Regions from separate parts of the Homo sapiens genome. Here regions 1 and 3 are each linked to region 2. The links come from fine-mapping of genetic effects on gene expression. A gene starts in region 2. Each other region holds a variant in brackets. All regions are shown on one strand. Distances are between the middles of the regions.

What was found. PIP is the estimated chance that this variant, and not a neighbour inherited with it, causes the effect.
Region 1: its variant is fine-mapped to the expression of CLN8-AS1 in aorta (GTEx, PIP 0.97).
Region 3: its variant is fine-mapped to the expression of CLN8-AS1 in sigmoid colon (GTEx, PIP above 0.99). The same link has a PIP of 0.9 or more in transverse colon.

The regions. Positions count from the first base shown.
Region 1 is chr8:2,544,388-2,552,572 of GRCh38, reverse strand. The region is part of intron 5 of LINC03021 (long intergenic non-protein coding RNA 3021); the gene reads left to right. Among named protein-coding and RNA genes, the nearest start is that of LINC03021, 180 kb to the left of the region's middle. The variant C/T (reference allele first, on the strand shown) is at 3,418.
Region 2 is chr8:1,761,211-1,769,373 of GRCh38, reverse strand. CLN8-AS1 (CLN8 antisense RNA 1) reads left to right here and starts at 4,790. Exons shown (of 2, transcript NR_134303.1): 1 at 4,790-4,940; 2 at 6,446-7,411. It overlaps CLN8 (CLN8 transmembrane ER and ERGIC protein), which reads right to left and starts at 5,585. Exons shown (of 3, transcript NM_018941.4): 1 at 5,489-5,585. RefSeq lists an enhancer at 1-231.
Region 3 is chr8:1,796,505-1,804,689 of GRCh38, reverse strand. MIR3674 (microRNA 3674) reads right to left here and starts at 3,565; the gene lies at 3,498-3,565. RefSeq lists enhancers at 1,619-2,279, 2,940-3,601, 3,435-4,634. The variant C/T (reference allele first, on the strand shown) is at 3,289.

The DNA.
Region 1 (8,185 bases), 780 kb before region 2:
ATTTCAGAAAGAATACTATGTAAATGATTATCTAGGGACTGGATTACTGCTCTACAATAAAGTAAACACACCACCAATACACAATGACAAAGGTCATACCAAAATCTTATGCTGAATAATACAAGTTAGGCATGAAGTAAAACATGCTCAATGATACTATCTATATAGAAATCCTAGAAAAGACAAAAAGCTCAAATACAGTACCAGAAAGCTGATCAGTATTTGCGCAGGAGCTGGGAGAAGGGGCATGAGAACATTTTGAAATTATGGAAATGTTTTATTTCTTGATTGACATGTGGTTATATGGATATGAATATTCATTAGAATGTCCCCTCACTCTACACTTAGTATAGGTACATTTAATTATAAAATATAATTCTATGAAGCTAATCAAATGGCTGTTAAAGAAAGTTTTGGTACTGAAATAAACCTATTAACAAATTGGAAGTTCCTTTTTCTTCCTTTCTTTGTTTTAATGCAACTCCTTAACTATGCCAAAAAATGGAAACCCTCCTGAATATGGTAAAATGTTTAATGGTCGTTTGAAAGCATTCAAGGTAACCACAGCCGACACCCTATTTTGGTTGAAAGTTGCCCTTATGAGGCTCATGCTATTTCTCTCACTATGAAGAATTTCTGTTTACAGAATCATTCCAAGCTTCCTGTGCCTCATCCTGCAGGCCACCTACTCATTAAGGCTGAGCCTGGGTGCATCCATCCAGGCTCAAGATCACTCCGGATGGCCCCCCTACCCACCATCACTACTGCTTGTTCAACACAGAGAAAATATTTTGGAATCTCAGCTGCATATTAGTGTTTGTCTCATTACCACAGCCATGCCCGCTCTGTTTGCATTTGGTGATATGGTTGTGGCTCATTTAATATATTGACTTCTCCTTTACCTCTGCTAGCCCTGGAAGAAGTCACTGATTCTCATTGATTTAACTAACTAATCTCATGAATAAACTTCTGTCGACAGCCCCAGTAGCCACATTAAGTCTTCATGCCCTTCCCGAGCACTGGTGTTGCCTGCCAGGGTGCCCCTTCCTGTCCGTTTCTGCACACGCCCAGACTCATTCAGCCAGAGCCACTCCTCTTCTCTCCACCTCCCTCCCCAAGTGGTGTGGTTGTTCCATGAATGCTGCTGACTTGCGCATGGAATACGTGACAGCTCTCTCTCCTCTTCATGCCTTTCCATTTCCCTCCCAATCCTGACTTTTCCTTTGATCAACTCAAGTGTGGAAACACTTTCTACTCTACATTTTCCTTTCAATAACTGTTTTTAAACCTTGAAAATTTCCTTTTATTCTTCTGTTTTCCACGTGCCAAGAAATAACACAAAGAATGCAAACAAACAATGGGAAAACAGAAACCATTCAGTTGTCAGGAACACACATCCTATTTTATGGAATGAAATGTTGACCCCAATTCCAGAAAAAAAAAAAAGAAAGAAAGAAATCCAGTAATCCAGTAGATATTCTTAGTTGGATGGTACTGAGGGCTTATATGTGTGTATTTATAGAGAATCTTCTTGAAATAGCTATATGATGTGATTAAATTTAACGAAGCCTCGTGTAAATAAAAAATGTTAATTTTCATTATAGTAGAACCAAATAAATAGAATTTTATTAAATTCCTCATAGATTATAATGGGGCACAAAGGGGTTGTGCCCGAAACTTACTGTGCTCCTTGAAAAGTTTGGAGAGACAGTGTTAAAATGAATGGCCCTAAAATAGTTAAGAAATCTCAGTCTTGGTGTTTTTATTTATTTATTATTTTATTATTTTTTATTTCTTTCTTTATTATTTTTTTCTTTGAAACAGTGTCTTGCTCTTTCTCCCATGCTGGAGTGCAGTGGCGCATGATCTTGGCTCACTGCAAGTTCTACCTCCTGGGTTCAAGCGGTTCCCTGCCTCAGCCTCCCAAGTAGTTGGGATTACAGGCGCCCACCACCATGCCCAGCTAATTTTTGTATTTTCAGTAGAGACGGGGTTTCACCATATTTTCCAGGCTTGTCTTGAACTCTAGACCTCGTGATCCACCCACCTCAGCCTCCCAAAATGCTGGGATCACAGGCATGAGCCACCGTGCCCGCCCAATTTCAGCCTTATTTCTGACTTCTGGCCCTGGCACTGTGTTTCATATTGAGAAATCTTGATACTGGTTTCTGACAGAGGGTAGGATATACGTCCCATAAGGGTGTTTAAGACAGAGGGGTGCAAATGGCTCTTCTGTGGAGTCTGTTTAGTTTCTTTAGCAAACACATGTAGCCTAAATAGCCCACCTCATCCTTCCATCTGTCAGGCTCTGCTGTTAACTGTGGAGCGGCAAAAATCAGCTTAATGTGCTTCTCAAGACAAACCTAAGAGGCAAGCACCATCATTGCTCCTGTTTTACAGAGGAAGCAACTGAGGCACGACCAGGCTGAGCAGCTTGGCGAAGAGTCCGCAGCTGGTGAGTGGCTGCACAAAGGCCCAGATTCTCCATGTGAAGTGAACCTCTCAGTGTCTGTCCCCCAGAAGCCCCCGTGGCAGACAGCTTCGAATGAACCAGTCCCTTCCCAAACCGCCACCTTGAAACACAGGATGAGGTCTGAGATGTCTGTCTTTCTGATTGCAAGGCAGAAAGTAGTTCAGTGGTATACTTTTTGAAGCTTCCCTTGCACTCTGCCTTGGGACTCACTGACCTGTCCATGGTGCATTCCCTGGCTGTCCTTTTAGCTGGAGGCGCCTCCGTTGAGCCATGGAGACAGGATGCCCTCGCACCCACGTGGGCCGGGCTGGCAACCCAGCCTGCACCAGCACCTGCTCTGCCTGCGATGTCTATTTTCAAATAGCACAGGAACCACTTGGACTAGCGGTGTTATTTTTTGAATTTGTTTTAAAATGATACCAATAGTTAAGCTTAAAGTTGTTATTATTTTTTGCAGATTATTATTTCCCAGAAATAAAAAAGATGCAGCATGATTTTCACACATTTTGATGTTCCTTTCTTGCAATGCTTCCCTGGGTCTGCCATTACCTTTGAAAAGACATATTTGTCATGATGTGTTCTTATTACAGAAGTTACAGTCATTTTTGTTTATGAGACCAGGAAAAATCTTCTCTCTGGAAACTCCACGTTTCAGCCTGTGTTTTGATGCTTGAAGAAGGCACATCTTAATCACTGGGGGATGACACTAGTTAAAACGATATGAATTTAGTGGTCATATTTTCCATCTGTGTAGGGGAAAAAGTGTAGAATCTAATTTGCCTATTTTAATGCAAAAGCTCAGTGAAAAATGGGAGTAATTTACAGCTTCTGTCGAATTATTCATGTTATTTTCTGCAGAGTCAAAACTCCTTTCATTCTCTTCAAAGTCATACTTTTTAAAGTTTTGAGGCATTCCACCGTGATAGTAAATTATACTTTTGATA[C/T]ATGCATATAAATTATATAATCTGCATGTGGCAATTTTAATAACGAGAATCTACTCAGGAAACCCTCTCTGATTCCGCTTGAGAATGTATTTTTCTTTAGATTTTTTTCTTAAGTGCATATAATATACACATTCCTAATCTACAACAAATGAATGCGTGCAAGACCAAGAACTGGCATATCTACGGAAGAGCTCTCTGTTAAATTTTTTAATGAAAATTGCTGCTTGAGCTCCAGATGTCCCAAGTTCAGTCTTTGGAAGTTAAGAAAGCTGCTGGGACTTGTGATCAAGTGCAAGGACATGGCTTCCCTTGAGCTGCAGTCTGGTGTATGACATTGTTGGTGTGGTTGCTACCATGGATGCTGCTAACGTGCCCAAGGAAAGCATTTTACTGAATTCTTTGGTTAATAATGAATCTCAAATTCTCACATTACAATATAAAGAAGTAGGAATGGAGGTCAGGCACGGTGGCTCATGCCTGTAATGCTAGCACTTTGGGAGGCCGAGGCGGGTGGATTGCCTGAGCTCAGGAGTTCAAAACCAGCCTCGGCTACATGGTGAAACCCAGTCTCTACTAAAAAATACAAAAAAATTGGCCGGACATGATGGCGGGCGCCTGTAGTCCCAGCTACTCAGGAGGCTGAGGCAGGAGAATTGCTTGAACCAGCTAGGAGAAGGTTGCAGTGAGCCGAGATCGCACCACTGCACTCCAGCCTGGGCGATAGAGGGAGACTTTGCCTCCAAAAAAATAAAAATAAATAAATAAATAAAAAAAGGTATTTCCTCTATCCCTTGACCAGTTTCTAGACATTCAATTTTGAGTTCTAAATGAACTCAAAGAATGCAATTAAAATATACTATAATGCAGTCTAGAGAATTAAAATGTCATAATTATTCACTGTCTTCCATGAAGGTCAAGTTTAACATATCTTATTTTTTTTCTTTTTGTTTATAGAGAGGGGGTTTCGCCATGTTGCCCGGGCTGGTCTTGAAATCCTGAACTCAAGTGATACGCCTGCCTCAGCCTCCCAAAGTGCTGGAATTACAGGCATGAGCCACCACACCAGTCCTAGCTTAAAATATCTTTGAAAAGAATATTTTCAAGTATGTTAGCAAGTGTTTCTGAATGGAATATTTGTGCAAAGTATATCAGCAAAACGAAGTCACAGTCTTAGCCACATTGGACCTCATTGTCAATGAAGAGAAAGTAAAAGTCATCAGTGTCCTCTACCAATTGCAAAAATAACTTAAAATATTTTCAATGTCAAATTAATTGTAATTTATATTAAGCAATTAATTACAATTTTTTGTTGCAATATTTTAGGTCGTCAAACATTTATCTTTGGTTAAATTACATATGTGTGCCCCTATACTTGGTGTTAGGCAATATTCAGTAGATGAAATTAAACAAAACAGGTTCCTAAATAACTCTATTAAAATCACAGAGACTATCACATCAAACCAATCAATTCGCCAAAAGCATTCTTCCAAATAAGGGGGTCATCAAATCTACAGGGGCATACAAAATAGTTGCAAACCGTGATTCGATAAAGATGACAAAAAGATATTTTTCCATTCACAATCTGTAGTCCCTGCATATCAAAAGCAAATGGAAAATGTAATAAAGGTAGACTGTAACACACTTGGTTTATGAGAACTAAGAACTATTAGACATTGTAAATATCCCTTTAAATTTTGCTACATATAAAATAGGATTGTGGCTGGGCACAGTGGCTCACCCCTGTAATCCCAGCCTTTTGGGAGACTGAGGCAGGTGGATTACCTGATGTCAGGTGTTCCAGACCAGCCTGGCTAACATGGTGAAACCCCATCTCTACTAAAAATACCAAAAATTAGCCAGGTGTGGTGGCGGGTGACTGTAATCCCAGCTACTCAAGAGGCTGAGGCAGGAGAATCGCTTGAACCCGGAGAGGGGGGAGGTTGTAGTGAGCCCAGATCTCTCCATTGCACCCCAGCCTATGTAATAAGAGCAAAACTCTGTTTCAAAATAATAATAATAAATAAAATAGGATTATGAAAGATAACTATCTGTTATTGAATATTAATACTTTGATGCCAGTTGATTGACTTCTGACCATTTATTTATTTTTTTGAAAACCATTTTATTCTGTGCTAATAAGAGCCAGGGAATGATCTAGCCATACAAATGATAAGTAAACCAAAAAGCTTCTTAAGTAGTTTGTTATTTGTGTGCATTCGAATTATCACTGAAAATATGAACCTGCATTGATCTTCCTACCAAAAAGGCCATGCAGTGCACTGAGTCACCTCATTGCCAGCATTACCCAAGCCTCCTCCCGGGGAATTTGGATCTCTTCCCTCACATGGAAGACTCTGATTGCAGCATCTCCTCCCGGCATTATTGGTCAGACCCCCACGACAATCTCGCCGTGAATACAGAGGCATCTCGGAGCCACAGCTCAGCTCGCTTTTCCTCTTACCCTATACCCCGGGTCCTCTCTTATATGACGAAAATTTTTCAGCATTTCTATTCTGAATACATATAACCTTTGGAATTGTCTATTCTCCAAAAACGAAGAGTTTTATAACCAAAAGGTGCTGGATATTATCAAAGTCATTTTTTAAAGGGCCACATAGTCAATAATTTAGGTTTTGTTGTCTGCGTATTAACTGTCACATTAAATAAATAGATAGGACTTAACAATGTAAAAAGAATTCTTAGCCTGAGGGCTGTACAGCAACAGCCTACAGATGGGACCTGCCTTCTAGGACATACTACGCCCACCCCTATCTAAATCTATGTTTAAAAATGTACGTGAGGTTCACAAAGGGAGGTGATATGGGTGATATTATGGAAATGGATTTCTAGATCGTGAATCTTCATATATATTTTTTCCTAAAATTATTCTGCCTGAGTCCCACCACAAACTAACCTTTAACCACATTTACCACATTTCTGGAACATTTCATATCACTATTTTGGCTGAGACAGTACTATGTATTCCGCACATTTTTTTTTCTCTATCACCTCCCTTTGGCTGCTAAATCTATCTAATAATTTTCTTATTTTCTAAGTCAGACTCTGCATTTTTCCAGTTCTATTACTGTGTTGAGATTTCCTATTCATTCATTGAAAGCACAGTTTCTTTTACTTCATTAAATACAAATTAGAATAACCTCTTTAAAATCCTTGTCTGCCTTATTTCAACATCTGAATTTAGGTCCATTTTATTTTCTACGGAAAATATATTCTATTGTGTTAGTTCTTTACATGCCAGATAATTTTGGATTGTATCTTAGACATTGTGGTGGTTAAATTGGGAGGATTTACTTTTGTTCTTTTCATCTTATGCCTGTTGATTATTTGGTTTTATGAATGATAATCTTAACTGAACTTGAACTGAAAAACCTTAGGTGGCGGCTCTAGTCTCAATTTAGATATTCCAGCTTTAATTGAACTGCCTTGAGTTTTTTCACCCATGCATTTTTCCATGATCAGTCACTGACAACTTTTGGAGAGTTTGGGAACTCTGTCTGTATCTTTTATGTACAGGATTTCACCACTCTCTCTAGAACTCATGCATTCCCCAATATCCATTTTCAGGTTTTTCTAGGCAGAAAGGCCTCAGTAAGTTTTCTGTTAGTTGTCTTGCCAACTCATACATGTCAACTGCCCTTAGCACAGGGTTAAATGCCCTTAAAGAGGACCTTGGTACCCTCCTCTTCTAAGTGTGCACTCCCCATCGAAGTTTATAATTTTATCATTCTCCTATGCCCTTAGGTAGCTACCTATAATTCCTTAAGATTTTATCACTGTTTTGTGTAAATAAGTCAGTCTTGGAAAATCTTTCTCCATCTTCTCTGATATCCTCATTTTAAAAACAAAGTAATTAAAGCCATAAAAATTCAAAGATACAGGAAATATCTCGCAGTTATCTATCAGCAGAACCAAAACCAGACCCACGTTTTCTATCACAGTCCCCCATCCACCTTTGGTTCCAGTGATAACTACATGTAACAATAGCGCCTTCTTTCCCCGGTTTAAGAATGGCTCTTGCCACTAACTTTGCACAGGGCATGTCCATGCCTTATTGCTACAGCAGTCCTTCCCGTCCAGAGTTTTGCTTTGCATGGTTTCCTTCTGCGTGGTCTGCCAAATATCTATAAATATTAAATGGAAAATTCCTGAAATAAACAATTCACATGCTTTACACTGTGTGCTGTTCTGAGCAGCCCGATGAAATCTCACACCATCCCATCCTGTCCAACCCAGGACATAAATCATCCCTATGCCCAGCAGATCCACACCACGTACCACACACGGCAGCAGATCCACGCCACGTACCACACACGGCAGCAGATCCACGCCACGTACCACACACGCCTGTGAGTCACCGAATGTCTGTCTCGACAATCACACCTCCTGTCCTGGCACTGCAGTATTCCTGTTCAAGTCACCCTTATTTTACTTGATAATGGCCCCATAGCACTAGAGTAATGATGCTGGCAATTCAGATATGCCAAATAGAAGCCATAAGTGCTTCTTTTAAATGAAAAAGTGAAATTTCTTGATTTAATAAGAAAAAAATATATGCTGAGGTTGCTAAAATCTATGGTAAGTGAATTTTCTATCCATGAAATTGTGAAGGAATCGGAAATAAATCCAGGCTGATTTTGCTGTCACACATCAGACTGCAAAAGTCATGGCCGCAGTGAGTGATAAGTTCTTAGTGAAACTCATGGGTGGAAGATAAGAACAGGAAATGTATTCCACCTGACAGTAATGT
Region 2 (8,163 bases):
GAGCCATTCACTGTGGCCATTCAGCAAAAACTTGCCAATCATTATTCAGGCAAAAAGGTCGCTGTGACCACACCCCAAGGACATGGAAAACACTAGCTCACACAAGCATGCAAAGAATGTGAGTCCTGGGACCTGATGCAAATGACAAGGGAGCACTGATCACTCCTAACCTCTTGCTTTGATAATGGTCTATAATCAAAGGCAAAATAGTACAAGAGTTTGTCTGTTTCTCCATTAACACTCCAGCTTTAACACAGACTAGCTCTGTTTGAACACAAATCTGATGTGGGGAAAGACAGCACTGGTACTCATGTTTCTCCCTAGAGAAACGGCTCCCGTGTCATGCTGCCCCTGGTGCGTGAGTTCAGGGCACACAGGCGTGCTCTCTGATAGATGCTATGGATGACAACTGAGGGGCTGCCATGCCCATGTGTGCCCTCGTGACCCACACTTCTGGTCATGCTATATATCAAGACTCCAGTGTACTTACACATCTCCAAACACATTTCTGTTAACCTGTTGACAAATCAGGTTGAACATGGTATTAAGGGGCTGGCAAGAGCACTCGGCTCTGGTATTCAGTGTGCAGCAAGGCATCGTTGAACCCCTATGCACTTCACAGGAGCAGATCAACTTCAAGTGCAGCCTAATGCCTGGAGGGGAGACCGCTTACCAGCATTAAAGAAAAGCAGGCTGGGTGGAAAGGACAGGTATCAGGCAAGGAATAGCATCCATTACAAGGGTTAACGTGAACAACACTGTTAAAGGTTAAAATATGGACCCCTCGTAAAACTTCTCCCTGTACTTTTCCACGAGTAGGTCATCAGCTCTGACTTATAGGTCCCATTTTGCCACAGTTGCATCAATGTCCGCTTGGCCAAGACCACTAACTTCTGTAGGACCTCTGCCTTGAGACGAGAGAAACCCCGACTCCAGAAGGCTCTGCCCAGATCAATGACTCAAATCCACCTCAGTGGAAGTGGTGAGCCCAAGTGATGCTTCAGGAGGTCTTTGGTTTGGTCAAGGTGAGAGGGACTCCAGGACATGAGAACCAAAAACCAAGAAGAGCGGCTGGCTTAGTGGGCTCTGATCTTGATTTCACTATTTAGGAGCTAAGAAACCAAGTTTCAGGCTGGGTGTGGTGGCTCACACCTGTAATCCCAGCACTTTGGGAAGCCAAGGTGGGTGAATCACTTGAGGTCAGGAGTTCAAGACCAACCTGGCCAACACGGCAAAACCCTGCCTCTACTAAAAATACAAAAATCAGCCAGGCGTGGTGGTGCGCACCTGTAATTTGAGCTACTCAGGAGGCTGAGGCAGGAGAATTTCTGGAACCCAGGAGGGTGGAGGTTGCAGTGAGCCGAGATCACACAACTGCACTTCAACCTGGGCAACAGAGCAAAACTCCATCTCAAAAAAAAAAAGAAAGAAAGAAAACAAGTTTCTTTCCTAACCACCCTGGACCCCAGAATCTGACTACAGGAAAAAGAAATACACAGAGCAGGCCGAGTGCAGTGGCGCACGCCTGTAATCCCAGCACTTTGGGATGCCAAGGCAGGTGCATCACAAGGTCAGAAGTTCGAGACCAGCCTGGCCAACATGGTCAAACCTCGACTCTATTAGAGATACAAAAAATTAGCTGGGCGTGGTGGTACATGCCTGTGATCCCAGCTACTTGGGAGGCTGAGGCAGGAGAATCGCTTGAACCCGGGAGGTGGAGGTGGCAGTGAGCTGAGATTGCGCCACTGCACTCCAGCCTGGGTGACAAGATGAGACCCCGTCTCAAAAAAAAAAAAAAAAAAAAAAAAGAAAGAAACATACAGAGCAGCGGGAAATGAAGCACCTACTACAAGCCAGATGTTCAACTAGTTTGTGTGATCTTCACCATAAGAGCAAATAGCTACCAGGTCTTCAAGCTTTCTAGATATCTTTTTGGAGAGATTACCATATCTACAGAAAAGTGGCAGATAGGTGAAAGACATGGAAACAGAAACAGGTAAGCCACAGCTGAGTGGGCAAACCCTCCTGGCAGTCAGAGAACAGGTGCCAATTAGGGATGCAGAAACAGCAGATTATAAAGACCAGAATGCTTACTTCCCCTTCCAGTCCTGTAGTGAATCCCCCATTCTGATTCTTTGCTCAAACCTCCTGACTTTCTGGGTAAGCTGGTGCTGTTCTAGTCTAACTCGTTACTGTGGGTCTCTGAGTTTAGTTAATGCCAACCAGCATCCTCCAGCCAGGAGTTCACAAAGGAGGTGAACTCCTCAGCTCTCTCAGCCATGAGGGTAGAAGGCCAGTCCCAGAGGCAGGATCCAGCCCAAGCGCCCAGTCTTCCTGGAGTCCTGCAGAGCTCTGCTGTCCTTTCGTGGCATCAGCGTTGTACTGAGAACAGCTGTGGTTCACCCCAAGTCACAAGGTGGGCACCCACAGAAGTGTGGCTAGGCCTTGTTCTGTCAGGCAGCACAGAAGGGGTATGGGAAGAGCTCAGCTTCTCCTTTTGCTTCTATTTCTGCTCCTTGACCCAACCACACCCTCTCACTCTTGATACGCAAAATGGGACACAGGGGTTCCCACTGTTCCCTTGCTGTGCACCATAAGGCTCAGGCCACATGAAGGAGTCCTTAAGTGTAATGCACAGCTGGAAGTCACTGTTCCTTCCATGGGTAAAACTGGAGGCCGAATCGGCCGGGCAGGGTGGCTCACACCTGTAATCCCAGCACTTTGGGAGCCCAAGGTGGGAGGATCACGAGGTCAGGAGATCGAGACCATCCTGGCTAACATGGTGAAACCTTGTCTCTACTAAAATACAAAAAAAAAATAGCCAGGCGTGATGGCGAGCGCCTGTAGTCCCAGCTACTCGGGAGGCTGAGGCAGGAGAATGGCGGGAACCTGGAAGGCGGAACGTGCAGTGAGCTGAGATAGCGCCACTGCACTCCAGCCTGGGTGACAGAGTGAGGCTCCGTCTCAAAAAAAAAAAAAAAAACAAAAAACTGGAGGCCGAACCTAATGGACTCATCTGGTTCTTTCATTCTGGAAGGCTTCCAAGCCCTTCCACACCAGCCCCTTTCCTCTCTGCAGTAGAGGAAGTGGAGCCGGAGAATAAACAACTCCTGGAAGGCCACCATCTCTTGACGCTGCAGATCTTCATTTTCTTTGGAGAAAATGTATACAAAAAGCTTGTCTTATAAGATTCTGTGGTTTCAGCTCTTCTATTGCACTGGGCCATGAAGTTTTTTAAAAATCTGAATGCAAACACATCAGTAAGAGTGTTAGCTCTGTTGCTGCAGTGTGACCAGGAACCAGGCTCAGTGGCCACTGGAACCCTTCGACTCTGTCATGCATCTATGCGCTCCTCCGGTTTATGGGGGCTAAACTGCTATGGATACCAGCATTTTTGTTTTTCATTGAGATAATTTATCCAAACTTGGAAGTGACGTCAAAAGGGAAAAAAAAGGTTGCATGCTTTTTTCCCTGCTAACGCAAGTTCAGTGTTTTACAACCCCAACAATCACTTGACTTTCTAGGAGAAATAACTAAACTATTTACCACTGATTGTGGGTCACGCATTTTACAATCTGCAAAGCTAATTCTCCTTTCCATCAAGAAGAAAAGACAATCCCAAAGGCTGTGGTTTCAATGCACACAGGATATTCACCAATCTTATTATCTAATCTGGCAATCTTCTCTCAGCATTCCTGTTACCCACTCACTAAGAAAATCCTAGTTTTGTGTATTCTCTTTTGAACTGACATTCCTATCCTGCTGTATACTGCATTAATGACTGAAATATAACCTGACAAGAGCTATTTACATGAGAATTATACTTCTAACATTTTGAAAATTATACATTGATGGGTTGTAAAAATGTTTTCCAAAATCAACAGAAATACATGTTTAATACACAAAATTCAGAAAATATAAACAAGCATAAAAATACAAAAATAAAAATTTACAATCCTCTTACACAGCTCCAAGCACCATCACTATTTTTTGGTGCCTGCTGGGTCAATTGTTTTTCTAGATATAAACTCTTCTTTTTACATAAAAGGGGATAACAGTATACAAGCTGCTCCCCGGCCTGCTTCTCTTCTCTCAGCAACAGCTAATCCTCCTCTGCAACACGGTTGCAGGGACTCCACCATTTACCTACCCGGTGTCCTACCAGGCTTTTGCCCAGTTCCTCGTTATCAGAAGACATTGTGTATTGAACATCTCTGAGGCCACCTAGAGAACCTGTGCTCTTTGTATGGAAACTGGATGCTCAGGAAGAACTTCCTTAACAACCACAGCCTCCATGACGGCCAATCTGAAAGTGAGGCACAGAAGTGTTCAAGCTCAGTGGGGAGCTGTGGCCATCTCATATTCCCTCAATCACTCACACTTCCTGCACCATTGCTCTTTCCTCTCACAACCTTCCTGAAAAGTTGTATGTAAATAAAAATCAAAATACGGGAGTGAGGTAAGCAGAAGCTGGATAGTTACAGATTTCACACAGAGGGTAAACTGAAACAGGAGTCAGAAGCAGCCGCCTCGCGCCAGTCTTTCAGAGAAGAGTCACTTACAGCAGAATCTACACAGGCTGGGGAGCCCCTGGCTCCCCTCCCTACTGTCCACACCCAACCCCAACCTAGAGCAGCTGGCTATAGGGCCCAGAGCCCAGGCGGGTCCCACCTCCTGCTGACCTGACCCAGCGCCCGCTCTCTCCCCCGCACACTTTGGTGACCTTACCCAGCGTCCCTCCCCGCTCCTACAGGTTCTGACTGACCCAGCGTCCCTCCGCCTCCCACACCATGTTGAGCTGCACCTTGTCCCCTTCCGCCCCAGCTAACTCGGTGACCAGTGGAGGCCACACCCACGTGACACCTGCTGTCCTTGACAGCAGCTCCGACGGCACCTCTGTGGCTCTGCAGGAGCCGCCTCCCCGCCTCGTGGGCACACAGGTGAGCTGACCGTACTTGCCCAGCCGGTCTGAGGGAAGCGAGGTCAGGGGCGACGGCGCCGCCTCCGCCTCCGCCTGTCCCCTCCCTCCGTCCGGCATCCGCGCCGCTCAAGGACTCCAAAGTCAGCGTCGCGGTGAGGAGCCCCCCACGCCCAACCCGCGCAGGCAGGACCCCGGGCTGCGGGGCTCGAAAGTCCCCCACAAGCTGCTGTCCGGGAACCGCACGGCCCGGGGTGCCGCACGCCCACCGGAAGGCAGGGCTGGGACCGCGGACGCCAGGAGCCACCCCGGCCCCTCACCCGGGCTCCCCCTCACGTGGGCTCCCGCGCGCCCATCTGGGTTCCCCCTCAGCTGAGTTCCCGGCCCCTCACCTGGGATCCCCGGTCCCCTCACCCGGGCTTCCCAGCCCCCTCGCCTGGGCTCCACGCGCGCTCACCTGGGCTGCCCCTCACCTGGGTTCCCGGCCCCTAACCCGGGCACCCCGCGCGCTCACCTGGGCTGCCCCTCACCTGGGTTCCCGGCCCTCACCCGGGCTCCCTGAGCGCTCACCTGGGCTGCCACTCAGCCGGGCTCCCTGCGCTTGGCGCCGCCCCGCCCCTGCAGGACTCCCGGCAGTCACTGACCTCATTGCCGCCCAGTCACGACTGGCCGGCCTCAAACACCGCCCGCGCACGCGCGTTCGCACGCGCGTGCGCACGCGTTCTGCCCCCCTGGGGGCGTCGCTACGAGAGGCCCCGCCTAGGCGCTACGACGGCGGCGGGCGCGGGAGGGGCGGGGCGGCGGGCGCGGGAGGGGCGCGGCGGGGGGCGGGGCGCGGCGCGGGGGGCGGGGCGCGGCGGGGGGCGGGGCGCGGCGGGGGGCGGGGCGCGGCGGGGGGCGGGGCGCGGCGGGGGGCGGGGCGCGGCGGGGGGCGGGGCGCGGCGGGGGGCGGGGCGCGGCGGGGGGCGGGGCGCGGCGGGGGGCGGGGCGCGGCGGGGGGCGGGGCGCGGCGGGGGGCGGGGCGCGGCGGGGGGCGGGGCGCGGCGGGGGGCGGGGCGCGGCGCGGCGGGCGCTGTGGGGCGGCGGGGTGGACGCGCTGAACCACGGCCGGCGGGAGGGGCGGGGCCGGGCTGAACCATGGCGGGCGGCGGCATGGGGGCGGTGGGGCTCCGCGGGCAGCCTGGTTGCGCTGCACCCGGACGGGGCCGAGGGGACCTGAAAGCTGCGGCAGAGCCTGACCGCGCCGTTCTCCAGAAGAGCCCCGGCCGCGGCTGAGTCGCGCTCCGGGTGTGGACGGAGCCGGAGCCTCCCCGGGGCTCGGTGAGGACACAGGGCCCAAGCCCCGGACCTTCAAGTCTTGACCGAGCGCATCCCCGGCCCTTCTGCGCCCACACCTGAGTTTTTGTCTGTAGGAGTTTCCGCAGTTTGCTAAGGTTGTTATTCGAGTTACTTATGTTTCTTCTCTCTAAGGTTGTTATTCGAGTTACTTATGTTTCTTCTGTCTAATGTGTTTTGTTCCCTCTTTAGAATCGACATCTAGAGGAGTACTCACCACTTAATTGATGATCAATACACGTTCCTTGAAAGAACCGATAGCATGCGATCGATACAGAGCATCTGCACTGGGATTGTCCGCCCCGCCTGTCAGGGAGGCCTCGGGGGCTAATGGAGCTGAGGGTATAGTCGGCCTTGGACCCTCGCTTTTTTCCTTTCCTGTACTATGAAGATAACTGCCTTATCTCCCCCTCAGGACTGTTTTGGGGATTAAATAGGACGTTTAAATTACCAACGCTCTTTGAAATAAACATTTCAAAATTATTATAACCCTTTAGTACATGTGGGAAAACGTTGACATTCATGTTCAAGTTTATTTTTCTGCTGGCTCATTTAGGTTTGTTGAAGCCTTGAGTCCCTAGGATTGTCTAAGAACATGGGTAAATGTGTGTGGAGGCCTCCCTGGAGGCCAGAGAACTGCCAGCAGCCTTCATGATGTTAGGGGAACAGGAACCTAGGAGAGCCAGGGTGACATCGTTTTAAAATCAACAACCCATCTTGGCGGGCGCGGTGGCTCAAGCCTGTAATCCCAGCAGTTTGGGAGAAAAAAATTAGCCGGGTGTGGTGGTGGGCACCTGTAATCTCAGCTACTCAGGAGGCTGAAGCAGAATTGCTTGAACCCAGGAGGCAGAGGTTGCAGTGAGCTGAGATCACGCCATGGCACTCTAGCCTGGGCAACAAGAATGAAACTCTGTCTCAAAAAAATAAAAATAAAATAAAATAAACTCCATCTTAAAACCAGTGAAACCACCATTGCAAAATTATAACTGAGACAGTGAGAGATCTGACCTAACCAACTCCATCCTACTTTTAACCTCCAAACTGTCCTTGTTCATTCCTGGGTGTAGGCCAAACTAACTTTGGAAGAAACTTAGTTTATGGTTTCCCGAAACAAATCCTTTTCTTGTCTGGAGACTAGACTGCCTTTGTAGGACTAACAAATTAGCCACAAGATTAGAAATTATGGTTTAGAATTCATGCAGCTGGAGATTACAAGATTCTGACCCTCCCTAAATTGCTCCTGGGGATAACATCACTATTGAAAAACCTAACAACAGTGCTTGAGATATTTTGCAGACCTTGCACTTGCTGAATTAGCTGGGACCATCCAGATGGATAAACTGGCTCATCTGATCTTGTGGCCCGCACTCAGCAACCGGCTCAGGCCAAGAGGACAGCTTTGATCCATACGATTTCATCTCTGATCTGACCCCTCAGTGCTCCCAGCTTACTGGCCCCCTACCTACCAAATTATCCTTAAAAACTCTGAACTCCAGGGCTGGGCACGGTGGCTCACACCTGTAATCCCAGGACTCTGGGAGGCCGAGGCAGGCGGATCACTTGAGGTCAGAAGTTCAAGACCAGCCTGGCCAACATGGCAAAACCCCGTCTCTACTAAAAATACAAAAATTAGCCAGGCGTGGTGGTGCACGCCTGTAATGCCAACTACTTGGGAGCCTGAGGCAGGAGAATTGCTTGAACCCTGAAGGCGGAGGTTGCAGTGTGCTGAAATCGCACCACTGCACTCCAGCCTGGGCAACAGAGCAAGACTCCATCTCAAAAACAACAGCAAAAACTCTGAACTCCGAATTCTTGGGGAAATTGATTTGAGTAATAATAAAACTCTGGTCTCCCGCACAGCCAGCTCTGTGTGGATTATTCTTTCTCTATGCAGTTCACCTGTTTGGATA
Region 3 (8,185 bases), 35 kb before region 2:
ACCTATCAGCATAACCCAAAGAAACATTTACCCTTTGTAAAATGACATCTTCCTCTTGTCAAGTGTTTAAAATGAATATAAATGGGCCTGCTGTCCCCAGTTTTTCTGAGCAAGTGATTTGCAAAAGCTTAAGGCCTGAAACCTTGAAGCCTGTACCAAACTGTCCAAACAAGGCAGTGTTGATGAAGATGGACACCCTTGCTATTTTCTCATTAGTCCAGAATAAGTAGGATGTAGTTACAGAAAAATCACACCAGGCGCCATGGCTCACACCTGTCATCCCAGCACTTTGGGAGGCCAAGGCAGGCAGACCATGAGGTCAAGAGATCGAGACCAGCCTGACCAACATGGTGAAACCCCGTCTCTACTAAAAATACAAAAATTAGCTGGGCCTGGTGGCGTGTGCCTGTAGTCCCAGCTTCTTGGGAGGCTAAGGCAGGAGAATCACTTGAACCCGGGAGGCAGAGGTTGCAGTGAGCCAAGATCATGCCACTGCACTCCAGCCTGGTGACAGAGCGAGACTCTGTCTAAAAAAGATAAATAAATAAAATAAAAAAGTCATGCCAGAAAGCAGGAACACTTTGCAAAGGAAGTTATTGACAAACAGTAAAAATTCTAAAAATCACTATAGTAAATGAGTGAAGGTTAGCTGCTGCAAAGGGGAAAATGTACATAGACCATAAATTAAGCTACACATCGTAGAAAAATAAATAATCACTCCAAAAGATCCCACCTCCACAGGGAGGCTTGAAAAGATGCTATTACACCACAGCCCACAGATGAAAGTGTGAACTCAAAAGTATCTGAGACAGGTCTCCATCCATTTAGAAAGTTTATTTTGCCGTGTGGGTTCACTTTCACACTGCTATAAAGAAATAGCCGAGACTGGGTAGTTTACAAAGGAAAATGGTTGAACTGACTCACAGTTCCATATGGCAGGGGAGGCCTCAGGAAACTTAAAATCATGGCGGAAGGCAAGAGGGAAGCAGGCACCTTCTTCACAAGGCAGCAGGACAGCGAGTGTGAGAGAGCCTGGGGCAACTGCCCTTTATAAAACCATCAGATCGCTGGGCGAAGTGGCTCACGCCTGTAACCCCTGCACTTTGGGAGGCCGAGGAGGGTGGATCACCTGAGGTCAGGTGTTCGAGACCAGCCTGGCCAACATGGTGAAAACCCATCTCTACTAAAAATACAAAAATTAACCAGGTGTGGTGGCAGGCACCTGTAATCCCAGCTACTCGGGAGGCTGAGGCAGGAGAATCGCTTGAACCCGGGAGGTGGAGGTTGCAGTGAGCCAAGATCACGCCACTGCACTCCAGCCTTGGCAACAAAACTCTGTCGCAAAAAAAAAAAAAAAAAAATCAGATCTCGTGAGAGTTATTCACTATCGCGAGAACAGCATGGGGAGAACCGCCCCCATGATCCAGTCACCTCCGGCCAGCTGTGTCCCTGGGGACTGCAATTCAAGATGAGATTTGGGTGGGGACACAAGGCTAACCATATTACTTGCCAAGGTTAAGGATGAGCCCGTGACACAGCCTCAGGAGGTCCTGACCACATGTGCCCAGGGTGGTCGGGGCACAGCTTGGTTTTATACATTTTAGGGAGACGTGAGACATCAATCAGTAGGTGTAAGATGCACATTGGTTTGGTCTGGAAAGATGGGACAACTCAAAGTGGGGGCTTCCAGGTCACAGGCAGATAAGAGACAAACAGTTGCATTCTTTTGAGTCTGGGATTAGCCCTTCTTTCACCAAATACACAATTTACATGTGAAAGGGGGGTAGAGGAACAGTCACTCTTGCCTTAGTCTGGCTTAGTGAATCTGCATTTTTTTCTTATTTTTTAGAGACAGGGCCTGGCTACATGGCCCAGGATGGTCTCAAACTCCTGGACTCAAGCAATCCTCCTGCCTCAGTTTCCTAAAGTGCTGGTCTTACAGGTGTGAACAACTATGCCCAGCCTGCATCTGCAGTTTTAAGTAAAATGGGAGGCGGGATTCCCTGATGCAGTTCCCAGCTTGATTCTTCCCTTTGGCTTAGTGACTTGGGGTCTCGAGATTTATCTTCCTTTCACAAGAGCCTGTGGTTCCACCGTAAGGACTGGAGTGGCCGATGCAGGGGGAGGAGTTTTGGGTGTGGCCACAGAGGCAGCTCCCAGCAAAGGCTGGCCACTGCATCCCCCTTCCTCACTCTGACTCCAGTCTTTCTGGCCATGAAACTTGACCTCTGTCATTTCAGGGGTTTCTTGTGGCCCCTCCACCCAGGCTAGCCCAGCTGAGCCCTCGAGGCTCCTCCTGCACCCTAGGCCTTGTTCCTATCACTTCCAGAGCCTGTCTGGTCAGTCCGAAGGTCTCTGTGTTAATGTTAATGCCATCGGCTGTTCCTGACCCCAAAGGGAGAGGATACAATGAGGCGTATCAGACCCTCCCCTTCCCGTCCGGCCTGACTTGTTTTTCAGGTTTGTTTGGAATCCTCTTGGCCAAGAGTAGGGGTCCATTCAGTTGGATGGGGGGCTTTTGGTTTTCGGAATTTTATTTTTGGTTTAAAACGGATGCTCACATGGGAGCCTGGGCCCAGAGCGGCCCAGGAAAGCACGTTCCAATGCTCCCTGCAGTGATCTAATGCGCTCAGAAGGTGGGAATGACTGTTCTAGTTCCCAGAGCCCCTTTTGCAGGGGACAGATGCTGGTGTAGAGTCCATGGTGCATTCAAGTCATGTTTCCTGCCCATTCCATCCGAGTGCAGTAGCCTCAGTATCTCATGCTACTAAAGTGATTGTCCAATCACTGTCACCGCCTGAAGGCTGGCTACAAAATTAAGAAATTAAAACTCCTGCCCACTGCACAGAGAAAACCAATTCACTGAAACCATGGTGTTGCAATAAAGAAAGTTTAACTGACACGAGGCCAGCCACGCCACGTGGGAGATGGAGTTATTCCTTTCATGCGCGTCCGTGTGAAGAGACCACCAAACAGGCTTTGTGTGAGCAAAATGGCTGTTTATTTCACCTGGGTGCAGGCGGGCTGAGTCCGAAAAGAGAGTCAGCGAAGGGAGATAAGGGTGGGACCGTTTTATAGGATTTGCGTAGGTAAAGGAAAATTACAGACAAAGGGGGTTTGTTCTCTGGCGGGCAGGAGTGGGGGTCGCAAGATGCTCAGTGGGGGAGCTTTTTGAGCCAGGATGAGCCAGGAAAAGGACTTTCACAAAGTAATGTCATCACTTAAGGCAAGGACCAGCCATTTACACTTCTTTTGTGGTGGAATGTCATCAGTTAAGGTGGGGCAGGG[C/T]ATATTCACTTCTTTTGTGATTCTTCAGTTACTTCAGGCCATCTGGGCATATACGTGCAAGTCACAGGGGATGCGATGGCTTGGCTTGGGCTCAGAGGCCTGACCATTACTTAAATCAATTTCCCTGAAAATTTGGAGGCTACTGTATTTCAAGGGTAGTTTAGCAGGCCAGGGAGTCCGCTTCTGAGTGGGGCCACAGGATCAGTCGGACATCAGAAATGCAAAAACTTGAAAGGACATCTCAAACGGCCAATCTTAGGTTCTACAATAGTGATGTTTATCTGCAGAAGCTGCAAATCTTGTGACCTCCAGAGTAATGGCTGGTCGTCGTTTACATCTATATTTTAGCAGAATCCAGGCTCCTCTCATCCTCCTAACCTACTGGCCTTTCATTAGCTTTACACAGGCAGTTCAGTTCGGGAGAAGGGCTATTATCGTTTAAACTATAAATATCTTCCAAAATTAGTTTGGCCCAGGCCTAGGAGTGATGAAAGACAGTTTGGAGGTCAAAGGCAGGATGGGGGTTGGTTAGATCAGGTATCTTTCAACGTCATAGTTTTCTCACTGCTGTAATTTCTGAAAGGTGGTTTCATCACTTCCAAGAGGGTAGAAGACATGTCCTACTCTGGCGGCAATTCCTGCGGGTGGCTGAAGGACTGAATCTGCACAGAGCGGCTGTCAGAGGCCAGTGCGTTCTCTGCTCCTTGTGTTCCTATCACCCAACTCTCCTGTAAGCCAGGCAATAAGAGACGGGAGAAAAACATCCTCATGCAAAGCAGCCGGACCCAAAATGAAGAAATGAAAAGATCAGTGGATCGTTAAGACCCGAAGTCAAATTTTTAACATGCCCCTGACTTTGTGGTTTTAAACTTGCCTGTTTGAGACATGTAAATACTCACTGATTTATAAAAACACCAGTCATCAGGCGTGCCAGTTTGATTCCAGAGAAAACAGTAGAGAGTGCCTTATCGGGAAGAACAAATGGCTGCCCTTATCTAGACGCTTTCACTTACTGCATGGTTCAGCACACGGCATTTTCATGATATGCAGAAACCATCTTCATAAAAAGTAATTTTCCACTTGCCCAATTAAATAACTGTCAAAGCGTATTTCCGAGGAAATTACACTGCATTGTTCTTAACTTTGCTTAGTTGTTAAAAAAAAGTTGACATTTTATTGTGAAATAAAACATATGCAGAAGAATTCACAAATCACACATTTACTAAATGATTATAAAGCAAATAGCTATGTAACCAGATCACAAGCAGAGCCCTGCCAGCACCCCAGAACCCCCACGGATCCCATCCTAACCACAGCCCCATTCCCTCATTGGGAAATGTGTTTGGTTTTATTTGCAAGCCAACCCATAACCTCACCTCATGTTCCAAGAAAGTCCCACAGTGATATGAGGCCAATCTGTTCAGCTATTTTTATAGGGAATTCTTTACCGCCTAAATCCAAAATACTTCCAAAATACTTCCCACTTCTGGGAGCCTGGAACTCACTCCCACGCTCTTGGCCTCATCCAGGGAGGAGCTTTCTCGCAAACCTGTCGCTCCAGGTCCTAAGAAACCAGATTTTATTAAAAGATTGGGTTTAGGACAATTAGGTAACTGATTAGTCTATCACAGTTGTCTGTGACAAGAACATAAATATTAGAGTTGAGACGTCAATTTTGTGAATAAAACCAAGCAGAAACCCTAACAAAGGCAAGAAGGGGTTTGTTTAGATCAGATGCAAGGGCTTCTGGTCCAACAGGCAGACAGAGCCCTCATGTCCATCCATTTCCTGCTGAAACCTGGCTAAAAATATTTAAGTGTTGAAAGTAGAGAAAGAAGATAGAAGGCATGGCCGGGTGTAGTGGCTCACACCTGTAATCCCAGCTCTTTGGGAGGCCGAGACAAAAGGATTGTTCAAGGCCAGGAATTCAAGGCCAGCCTGGGCAACATGGTGAGACCCTGTCTCCATTTAGAAGAAAAAGAAGAAGAAGAAGAAGAAGAAGAAGAAGAGGAAGAGGAAGAGGAAGAGGAAGAGGAAGAAGAAGAAGAAGAAGAACAAGAATTGGAGGAGGAGGAGGAGGAGGGGGAGGAGAAGGAGGGGGAGGAGGAGGAGGGGGACGGGGAGGGGGAGGGGGAGGGGGGAGGGGGAGGAGGAGGAGAAGAAGGAGGAGGAGGAGAAGAAGAAGGAGGAGGAGGAGGAGAAGAAGAAGGAGGAGCAGGAGGAGGAATACAATGGTCCAGTGCCAAGACAGTGAAAGGCAGAGGGCCATGGCAAAGTCTGAGGGCTGGAGGCAGATGGACAGATGATGGACGAATGGGCACCGGTGAGGCCAACCAGAGGAGGCTACCGGAGCTACAGGGAGAGCCTTTCAGGCATCTCTGAAAGGGGACATCAGGCGAGGCTGAAAGCAGGAGGCACAGGATCACCAGGTCCTGCTCCACACCCAGGAGGGCAGGTGGCAGCCCCAGCCCAGCTCGGAGGGCCCAGGAGGAATCGGCCAGAAGACACTGTCATGGAGATCCTGAGGCAGCAATGGGAAGCAGGAGGAGTGAAAGAACAGTGGCCTTTGCCTACTTGGATCCAAGAGTTGTGGCAGTCGAATGACAGATCCTTCCGCTCCGCACCCCAGGGGACAGCATGACAGATCCTTCCGCTCCGCACCCCAGGGGACAGAATGACAGATCCTTCCGCCTCACACCCCAGGGGACAGCATGACAGATCCTCTCGCCGCACACCCCAGGGGACAGCATGACAGATCCTCTCGCCGCACACCCCAGGGGACAGCATGACAGATCCTCTCGCCGCACACCCCAGGGGACAGCATGACAGATCCTCTCGCCCCGCACCCCAGGGGACAGCATGACAGATCCTTCCGCCCCGCACCCCAGGGGACAGCATGACAGATCCTTCCGCCCCGCACCCCAGGGGACAGCATGACAGATCCTCTCGCCGCACACCCCAGGGGACAGCATGACAGATCCTCTCGCCCCGCACCCCAGGGGACAGCATGACAGATCCTTCCGCCCCGCACCCCAGGGGACAGCATGACAGATCCTCTCGCCGCACACCCCAGGGGACAGCATGACAGATCCTCTCGCCGCACACCCCAGGGGACAGCATGACAGATCCTCTCGCCGCACACCCCAGGGGACAGCATCACAGATCCTTCCGCTCCGCACCCCAGGGGACAGCATGACAGATCCTTCCGCCCCGCACCCCAGGGACCCCAGAATTCCTTTCAGGGAAACACACCCATGAGAAAAATCTGCGTGATTCAAGAGTTCCTCAGTATGAGACCCACGCGCCTCCCTGGTTATCCCCGGTCCCACAGGCAAACCTCCTTATGCCACAGACACACACACACACACACACACGCACACCCGGGGTTCCACATCCTTTCTCAGTGCCTCATGCTGAGAAATAAATAGTCGAAGACCACCAGACACAAGGAAGCCTTCGACATGGAGAAAGAGGCAAAACCAAATTGTGTGGTCAGAGGAGACAGTGAATGGGGCAGAAGAAAACTTCAACAGAGAAAAGCGATTGTTGAAATGCTCCGGGGTGTCTGTCTCCCACCAGTGGAATTGCTGTGACACTCGGTGTGTGTCAGTGTGTGCAGAGGCATCTCCTGTCTCTAGTGGAGACTCTGGGATCAAATTAGTGACTGGTACACGAACACTCATCCAACCACTAGAGGAGGAGGAAAGGGCGCAGGGCTTTATTATGAACAGGCTAGGTCAACAGGACGGGCCTCGGGATGGGAAGTGGGTTTGAAGAGAAAGAGGAATCAAGAAAAATCCCAAAAGTTTTGACTGCAACACCTGGAAGGAGAGCAGCCCCCTGTACCGAGATGGAGGTAACAGGAAGAAGAGCACCTTGTGGGGGAAAGCAAAGCCCTGGTGTGGGTGGCCTGAGGCTGTAGAAAGTGTGTGATGCTCCAGATAAGGTGTCAGCTGACCCAGTATTCAGGTCTGGGCTGGAAGTGAGATTTTGGGAGCTTCTTGGGTATGGATGTGATTTACAGGTGACTTTGCCTGGGAAGATCCTACAGATGGAGAAGAAAGACAGGAGGAGGTTAGGATGATGGGAGGGGGACCAGGATCGGGCTCCAGGATCCCTCCCAAAAAAGCTCTTCTGGAGGAAGGGTTGGTGGAGCAAGTGCTGGCCGCCGGTGCCCTGGCAGGGGTGACTGTGGGGGGCAAAGGGCACTGTGGTGGGCCTTGGGCCTAAGAGACAACAGGAAAGAGGAGGTGGGGCTGGTGTGTGTAGGAAGTCCTTCTAGGTGGTTTCTCTAGAAAGAGAAGAGGTAGCTGCTGGAGGGGGTGAGATCCAGGGGTCTTTTCATGGCAGCAGCTCTCAGCATGGCATAGATGGACCAGTACCCCTGAGTGTAAAGGGGCGACGGTCCCGGGTGGAAGGGGCTTTGGACAGGCAAGGGAGGGGAGACAGTGCAGAGCCTCAATGCTGGTGGGCGGGATCAATGTGATGGTAAGCAGACTGGGACATTCTCTCAGGAGTTATCCATAAAACCTAGTGGACAGTTAAAAAGAGGGGAGAGAGAGAGAAAGAGAGAGACAGCAGTGGGAGTCCAGGCAGATGTGAGTTTGTGACCCAGGGAGGAAGCCTGGCAGAAGGGGCCCCTTTCCTCCAGATCTGGGGATCTGGGACCTAGGAGTGTCTTGGGATCTGTAATGACTGGGAAACATCCAGGGCAGTTTCCACGGCAGCCCCAGTGCGCCAACACCTGGTCCAGGAGGACAGAGAGATTTACTGAGTCCAGACTCGAAACAGAACTACACAAATAGGAAGGTGTGGAGGGGGACGTGGGTCCTGATTTCCAAACTGGGGCCTCCAGCCTTGGATGGAGGAAGTTAGGAAGGAAGGAAACAAGGAGAAT